Regions from separate parts of the Homo sapiens genome. Here region 1 is reported to be linked to region 2. Evidence: microRNA targets listed by miRTarBase, many of them from high-throughput screens and not tested one by one. Region 2 holds a microRNA gene; the other region holds the end of a gene's coding sequence.
Evidence for each region. Region 2 holds the annotated microRNA hsa-miR-665 (ACCAGGAGGCUGAGGCCCCU, at 2,232-2,251, shown strand). A microRNA usually pairs through its seed, bases 2 to 8, with sites in the 3' UTR of a target mRNA and lowers its output. Matches are read on the target gene's strand: a 7mer-m8 pairs with bases 2 to 8, a 7mer-A1 pairs with bases 2 to 7 and ends in A, and an 8mer does both.

Region 1 (4,066 bases), not on the chromosome of region 2:
CGGTCCCTCCAGTGGAACTTGGATAATACCTCCCTTACAGAGTCACTAAGAATTCAGTGAGTTGTCTCTAATGTGACAATATACTAGCATTTGGTAGGTCCTCAATAAATGGCATTCTTATGATCCAGGACAGCAGAAAAAGCTGAGAGTATGTTACTACAAAGTAATTTTTTAAAGACAACAGAAGTCACAATGAAACATGCTTTAAGGTTAATGCTTTAATGTATTGACATTTTCACTTACAAATGTACAATTTGCGTATGTAGGAAAAAATCAGTTCTCTAGACACAACAGAATACTACTAGAGACGGGAAAGCAATCACAAAAAGATCAACTCTGGGGAGAAAGTGGAACTGCATTCCATGCCTTGTATCTACATACACTAGGGAAGGAAAAAGAAATATTACACAGGATCAAAACTTGTGGAAAATACACTTGGGTCATTTTGTCTCAACTGCAGGACCTTCTTATGATCCAGATGGCTACCTTAAGTCCTGGATAGCCTAAAATGGGCAAAGTCTGGCCTTGTTCACAAATGATGATCCAAAACATTAACCACAGTTCTCCTTCTCTTTAGTATCCAAGACCCTGAAGTTGACTCAAGGAATGAAAAGAACAATCAGATCAGCATGTATATAATATCATTGGCCAACTTCTTCAAGGTATGGATTATTTAAAAGTACACATGGAAGTAAAATGCTTACTCAAACCTGAATAAGAAGTTTCTTGTAACTCAAGCACTTCTTGACTCACACTAAGTGTAGCACTGTAAACAAAAGACATCGTTGAGAAACTGAGGCTATCAAAACATTGGCATCTATGGGAGTTGTGGCCAAGGAAATAAAATACCTGAGCAACCTTATACCCAGTATGCATTTCATACCAGGATCAAGTCACTAATGACAGCCAAGTTCCAGGCTTATCTATGGCTGCCTAATGAGACTGGCCCCACTAGGATGGGGACTGGGGAGGGGACACACATGAGTGCCCAAGCTTCAGTCTACACCTCCCCCCTTCAGCCAGAAGCAGCCAGGGGAGCACAGGGACATCTGCTTCAAGAGCATTTTGGCAGCAAAAATCAATACTCTGTGGTTCCTGGAATTCCCACCCAGTAATTCCAAGTTCAAAATTACCACCAGTGCAACATGAAAAACTGTTAATAGTTTTTAAGTAAAGTGTACATACAGCTTTAATAACGATTATAATCTGAAGAAAGCCATTCTTCTTATACAGGATGGAAAATCCTCAAAGCAACATTTTAAACCATGGACACTAGAGTTGTCATACATCTATTCAGAGATGAGAGATAAACAGACATCCTTCCATGTGGAAACAGACACTCCCATGTCAACAAGTCCCCTAGGATCAGAGAGAAAAGCAGACCCGTGGTCATCACTAGGTGTCTCTGGTGTCTCGCTAAAGATGGAGTCCTATGTAGGTTGGCCTAAGTTGGCCTCAGAGGGAGGTGGCTGAGCAGCAAAGCAAGACAGCATGTGTGTAACCAGCCAGGCAAAATAACAAGTCTGTGCTACCTGGAGTGTATTTTCAGGAAAACAGGACCATATGGAGTGTGGGGCAGGGACATTCGCTGTGCTAAACTGCCACTGTAAAAGCACACTGTTGAAAGCATGCAGGACAGAAAACTGCAATAATTCAGAGCTTGAAAACAAGAAATAACAGAAATATGAATATTTCAAATACACACTTCATATACTGAAAATAAGAGCATTTGAAGAAAGGCTGGAATGGGTTTTCCAAAGACTCACACATTTTGGGGTTCCAAATTCAATGTTCTAAGCTTCTCTATCACAAAGAGATCAAGAACAAAAGCAAAGCTGGGGGTCCTGGCCAGGCTGAGTGGTACCTTGAGCCGGTCCCTGTGTCCTGAGGGTCCCTGGGCCCCATATCCCATCCATAACCCAAGTCTGCTCAGCTACAGTCTGCCCTGGTGCTCAGTGAACAGCCACAGAGTCCCACTTCTGCACAGGATGGGCCTTCAGAGTGATGAGAGAGCATCTCCCGCACAGTGCAAACCCCCAAAGGCCAGAAATGGGAACGCTCTAACTAAGGCTCTCCTTCCACTCCCTCACTGTTCCTTTAATATTACTCTCTCAGCAAGTAGAAAAATAGGCTATAAGGAGGCTTAGGCAGACACACACTCAAACAGCCTCTTGGAATAAAGCAAATCTGCCTCCACATACTTGTTTGTATATTGTTCTGGCTTCTCCAGGATTTTTTTTTTTTTTTTGAGACAGAGTCTCACTCTGTCACCCAGGCTGAAGTGCAGTGGCACTATCTTGGCTCACTGCAAGCTCCGCCTCCTGGGTTCACACTATTCTCCTGCCTCAGCCTCCCGAGTAGCTGGGACCACAGGCGCCTGCCACCACGCCCAGCTAATTTTTTGTATTTTTAGTAGAGATGGGGTTTCACCGTGTTAGCCAGGATGGTCTCGATCTCCTGACCTCGTGATCCGCCCGCCTCGGTCTCTCAAAGTGCTGGGATTACAGGCGTGAGCCACCGCGCCCAGCCAGCTTCTCCAAGTTTTAAAGGATTAAAGCCCTCAAACTCTCAGGCTTAAATCAATTCCTAATGTGGGATATGTTCTCCAAGTATGCCTACCAAAGCCATACAAGAATAAAGTGAGCAGCAGCAGCAGCTAGGGTCAGGCAGATTTCTGAAGCATGATTGTTCAAAGGCGGGCTGTGCCCCATCATCCTGAGCCATCGGCCTTGCCAGGGGCCTGTGGAGCCCCAGAGGGCAGGACGGGGGCTCTCACACCATAGCCTCGGGAAGTACCTGGGAGCTTACCAACCCACAACTCCTAAAGTAACATGCAACCAGTTCTGGTCTGTGGTTTGAAAAAGTTAAACGCAAAGAAGCTGTAGCTTTTCTTGCCACAATCACTCAATAGGCATACAACACTATATTACTGGCATAACATGAAAATAAATTAACCCTTAAGCACTACACCTAACTCTAAAAAGAAAATGCCTTTCAAAACAGGTATGCTCAAATAAGGTATTCTGAGAGTTGCACAAGAACAGTCTTGGAATGAGCCAGTGCCCCCGGAGAGTCAACATTTGAACAAAATAGCACAGTTCAAACCCTTCTCTGTGGTACTTATGTGGATTAGTACAATTATGACATCACTACTTTCAAAGGAATGATTAAAACTATTATTAAAAACTTTTGTCACAAACAGAAATGCCCTGCAAATCATATTATTGCACACAGGGTTATCAGAAGCTATGCACATCAAGACCTTGAGGCCCCTAGAAGACCCAAAATAGAGACCCTAAGGCCATGCCCGTGGCTGCTCCTGCCAGCATGCCCAGTGCCAGGTCGCTGTCGTTGTCTCGATAGCGCTCTCGAATGATGACTTGGTTAGCAGGCTGCTGTCCATAAAGTCCTAAAAGAGAAGGAAAATAGCAGATTTCTGAGCAGCGGTTTGTGAAGTTTAACATCACGCAAAGTACCAGTTCTCCTTTCACAAAAGGGATCTGCTGTCTCCTGTCACACTGGCGACCCAGCCCTCCTCCACAACAGGCACATCATGTGGCCGACATCCCTGAAACCGCACACTGGGAGGAAACCAAGATCCTCAGCTCACTAAGGGCCAAAGTCCCTAATCTGCAAAAAGCAGAACCCTAATGAAGCTTTCAGATTCTAGCCTCTGATTTCTACTTCAGCCCTCGACACCATGCTTATTGGGTGGCAGACAAATGGGGAACATGGGAGACACACAGTGCCCAACAAAAGCCCAAAAAGGAAATGCTCACTTAAAGCAAATGAGCTTCTTAGTATGCACGCAAACCAATTTTTAAATTAAGCCTTAAATCTGCACATATAACTTTTTTTTTTTTTTGAGAAGGAGTCTTGCTCTGTCCCCAGGCTGGAGTGCAGTGGCATGATCTCAGCTCACTGCAACTTCCACCGCCCAGGTTCAAGCTATTCTCCCACCTCAGTTTCCTGAGTAACTGGGACTATAGGCGCCCACCACCACGCCTGGCTAATTTTTTGTATTTTTAGTAGAGACGGGGTTTCACCGTGTTAGCCAGGATGGTCT
Region 2 (4,067 bases):
CACATCAAGTCCTCTTTCTTGTGTTACTCCAAGTCCCTGCCCCCATATGTCACAGAGAGACTCTTCCCACCCACGTGTCACACCAAGTCGCCTTTCTTGTGTTACTCCAAGTCCCTTCCCCCCATATGTCACACAGAGACTCTCTTCCCACACACGTCACACTGAGCCCCTTTTCTGTCTCACATTCCACCTCTCCTTCACTCATGTGTCATGAGGAGCCTTTTCCCTACTAATGTGTCACCTGAGCTTCTCTCACATGTCACTTGAAGTCCTCCCCTTCCCATGCATCACCCAGAGACCTTCCCCCCACTCATGCATTGCCCTGAGCCCCTCCCTTACTTATGTGACATGGAGCCCCTCTCCACACCCATGTGTCACACCAACCCTCTCTCCACTGATGTGTCACACCAACCCCCTCTCCACCCATGCGTCACATGGAGCTCTTCCCCCACCCGTGTGTCACACCAGCCCCCTCCTCCACCCATGTGTCACACTAACCCCCCCCACCCATGTGTCACACCAGCCCCCTCCTCCACCCATGGGTCACACCAACCCCCTCCTCCACCCATGTGTCCCATGGAGCTCTTCCCCCACCCGTGTGTCACACCAGCCCCCTCCTCCACCCATGTGTTACAGGGAGCCCCTCCTCCCTCCATGTGTCTGTCAATCTGAGCCCCTTTTCCATTCATGTGTCACTCTGAGCCTCTTTCCCACCTCCATACCCTCCTGCCACCCCTACTTCTTAATCTTTAACCCCTTTCCCTAAAGGTTTCCCTCCATGGGCTCTTTCAGAGAATGTTATATTATCAGGTCATTTACTCACAGATATTTTTGCACCACCTACCACGTGCCTGGCTGCGTGTCCCTGTGCATGTGTGTTGGTGGTGTGGATGGCTGGAGAGTGTAGGACGAGGCAGGCAGTATGGTGGTTGAGAAAGATGTCAAAGAACAAAGGAAGGTGTTTTGGGGTACAACTTTATTGAGATGTAATCCACATACACACAATCCGCCCATTAAAGCTCACAGCGAAGTGTGTTTTAGTTATTCACAGATATCTGCAACTATCACCATAATCAATTTAAGATCATTTTCATCACCCCCAAAAGAACTCCAGAGCCTTCAGCTGTCACCTTCACCCTCCATGCACACCCCCCAGCCCTCAGCAACCAAAAATCTACTTTCTGTCTCTGGGAAATTCTTGAAGTGCCCCTGGACTTCATGAGTCCTCACTGGGTCCCCAGAGGTGCCTGTTGCAACCCATTTCACAGATGTAGAAGGCAAGGCTGGAGAAGTACCAGGGAGTCAAAGCAGTGGGTGGGTGGGGTCGAGTCCCCGATGTCCACTCACAGACCTGGGCCAGAATCAGGCCTGTCTCCCCCTTCACCTCCCCATCCTCCGTCCCTTGGCCTGGCTGCACAGTCACCTGGGGGCTCTGTGGGGCTAAGGGAGGCCCAGGCCCTGGCCATAGGAGGCAGGTAGGGCAAGGCTGGGCAGGGTGGACAGGTACCCCAGCGCTGCAGGTGCCCAGCAGTGGGTGGCACTGCCTAGGCTGGCTGTCCCTTGCTGTCACTGCTCTAACCACTAGCAGCAGGCGTCCCCTCTGCCATCCGAGCGCTTGCACTGCGCTTCCGGGAGGAGGGTTGCGGCCCGTAGTCAGTAGTTGGGGGGTGGGAACGGCTTCATACAGGAGTTGATGCACAGTTATCCAGCTCCTATATGATGCCTTTCTTCATCCCCTTCAACCACGCGCAGCCCCCGGACCCTCCTCTGCACCCTTGGCTGCACGGGGACGCGTCCTCAAGTCCGCTGCTGTCCTGCCAGCCTCTTCCCGGCATGCTCCTTGGGCTCTTCTCTCTCTCTTCTGCAGCTCTCTGACTTCCTGGAGGGGAGGGCCTGGGGCTGGGCCATCTCTGAGGCCCCTCCTTGGCAGGGAACTATGCCCCTGGTGGGACACCCCCTGGGCTGACTCCACAGCCAAGGGCAGATAGGCCGGAGGGGGAGTTGGGTAGCCCTGGGGCTTCTCCCACTGAGGGGCTGGGGCTGTGCTCCCACACAGAGCCCTCCAAAGGGACCCGGCCCACAGGATGGATGGACAGACGTTGGAGAGATGGTGCCCCTTTGTGCCCAGGGTGGAGGGGGTGGGGCTTTGGCGGACCAGGGCTGGCCCTTTCTGTGCCCCAAGAGGAGGGTCTCCTCGAGGGGTCTCTGCCTCTACCCAGGACTCTTTCATGACCAGGAGGCTGAGGCCCCTCACAGGCGGCTTCTTACTCTCTCCTTAAACCTGTTCTGGAGACATTTCCCCTCTCCCCAAGGATTCCCAACTCTGGGTCCCCAGAAGCTGTCAGCTGGGCTCCCTTCTTCCCCTGTGCGTACCCTGCTCAGGCTGGGTACCTGAGGGTGCCCAATGGCAACATGAGCAGGGGGCACGGCCGTGGCCCCTGGTTCTTGGACCTCTGTCTTCTGCCTCTCTGACTAACTCAGGTCCTGTGCATGGCAGAGGTGACCCGCACCAAGCCCTGTGATATTGGCATCATTAACCCCATTAACAAGCCACGACAGCCAGCCCAGGCATGAGCATCGGGGCAGCAGGGCAGCCAGTGTGGGGAGAGAGGCCTTGCAGTAGCTGAGGCCATTAGAGAGGACAAGAGGGTGCAGGAGGGAGCATCCTCACCTCTGCCCTTCCCACTTACATCCCATCTCCCCTTCCTCACCCCTCCTTCCCCATGCACCCCTTCTTCCTGTAGGAGGGAGCACCCTCACCTCTGCCCTTCCCACTCACCTCCCATCTTCCCTTTCTCACCCCTCCTCCCCAATGCACCCCCTCCCTTCCTGCAGGAGGGAGCACCCTCTCCCCTGCCCTTCCTTCCCACCTCCCGTCTCCCCTTCCTCACCCCCGCTTCCCCCATGCACCCGCTCCCTTCCTGGTCTACCCCTCAGCTTCTGTGGTGTCAGGATGGGTATGCTTGTCTTTGTTGATCTCAGACAGGTGGACAGGGGTCTGGACGAGGCTTACTGTTTGGGTCTGAGGTCAGTGCTCATGGGCTTGGGGCATGACAAGGGTCTTGTCGTCCCCGCAGCAGGGCTCTGAGCGGGTGGGTGGAGCTTGGGAGTGGGGGTGATGGCTTCTATTTGTTGTCTTTCTCTTTTTCACTTTGGGAGCAACCGGGGTCACCAGGTGGGCAGGAGGGGACCTCACGTCTCTGCCCTGGGCAGATTGTTAAGAGCTGGTCAAGCTCCTGGCACGGGGGCCTGAGTCCAAGGCCCTAACTGGACCTGGGGCCGCCTGCAGGAGGGATGAGCGAGTCCGGACCCGAGCGGTGAGTAGCCCTCAGCTGCCTGGGTGGTGTGCTGTTGAGTGTTCCAGAAACTGGCCCTGTGTGCACCAGGGCTGGAGGCTGGCACGTTGGGCATCTCATGGGGGTGGGCTGGGTCGGGAAGGGAGGTTGATGGACAAGACTCAGCAGGAGTGGAGCTCAGGGCTCCCTCCATCCCCTGACATCAGTGACCTGGGGGTGGACAGAGAAGGTGGAAGATGGGTGCATTTAGTTGTGGCCCGCCAGGTCCCGTGGGCCTGTGTGCCAGTGTCCGCGCCAGGCTGTGCTGTCTGCTGTTCAGAGGAGTTTTCACCTTTTTTTGTGGTGGCCATGATGTCATAACCCAGCATGACATTTAACATTAACCTTCCTTTTTCTTTCCCCAGGAGAAAAAAAGGTTTGTATTATTTTTCTTTTGAATTTTTTATTTCCATAGGTTTTGGGGAACAGGTGGTGTTTGGTTACATGAGTAAGTTCCTTGGTGGTGATTTGTGAGATTCTCGTGCACCCATCACCTGAGCAGTACACACTGAACCCAGTTTGTACTTTTATCCCTCACCCCCTCCCACCCTTTTCCTGGAGTCCCCAGAGTCCGTTGTATCACTTTATCAGTAGTTCTCCTCTGGGCCTGGGGGCTGCCGCTCTTCTCTGTAAACTAAACCTGCTGTGGCTGGATGGGGCAGGGGAGCCAAGGAGGCGAGGTCCTCACTGTCTGCTGGTGTGGGGGGCCGTGGCCACTCTAGCACCGGGAGC

Region 1: miRTarBase lists PLEKHB2 as a target of hsa-miR-665. Seed matches in the 3' UTR shown: 7mer-A1 at 2,226-2,232.

The regions. Positions count from the first base shown.
Region 1 is chr2:131,145,980-131,150,045 of GRCh38, reverse strand. It overlaps PLEKHB2 (pleckstrin homology domain containing B2), which reads right to left. Exons shown (of 8, transcript NM_001100623.2): 8 at 201-3,409. The coding sequence ends at 3,273. Among named protein-coding and RNA genes, the nearest start is that of PLEKHB2, 43 kb to the right of the region's middle.
Region 2 is chr14:100,872,844-100,876,910 of GRCh38, forward strand. It overlaps MIR665 (microRNA 665), which reads left to right and starts at 2,190; the gene lies at 2,190-2,261. It overlaps MIR337 (microRNA 337), which reads left to right and starts at 1,650; the gene lies at 1,650-1,742. RefSeq lists an enhancer at 829-998.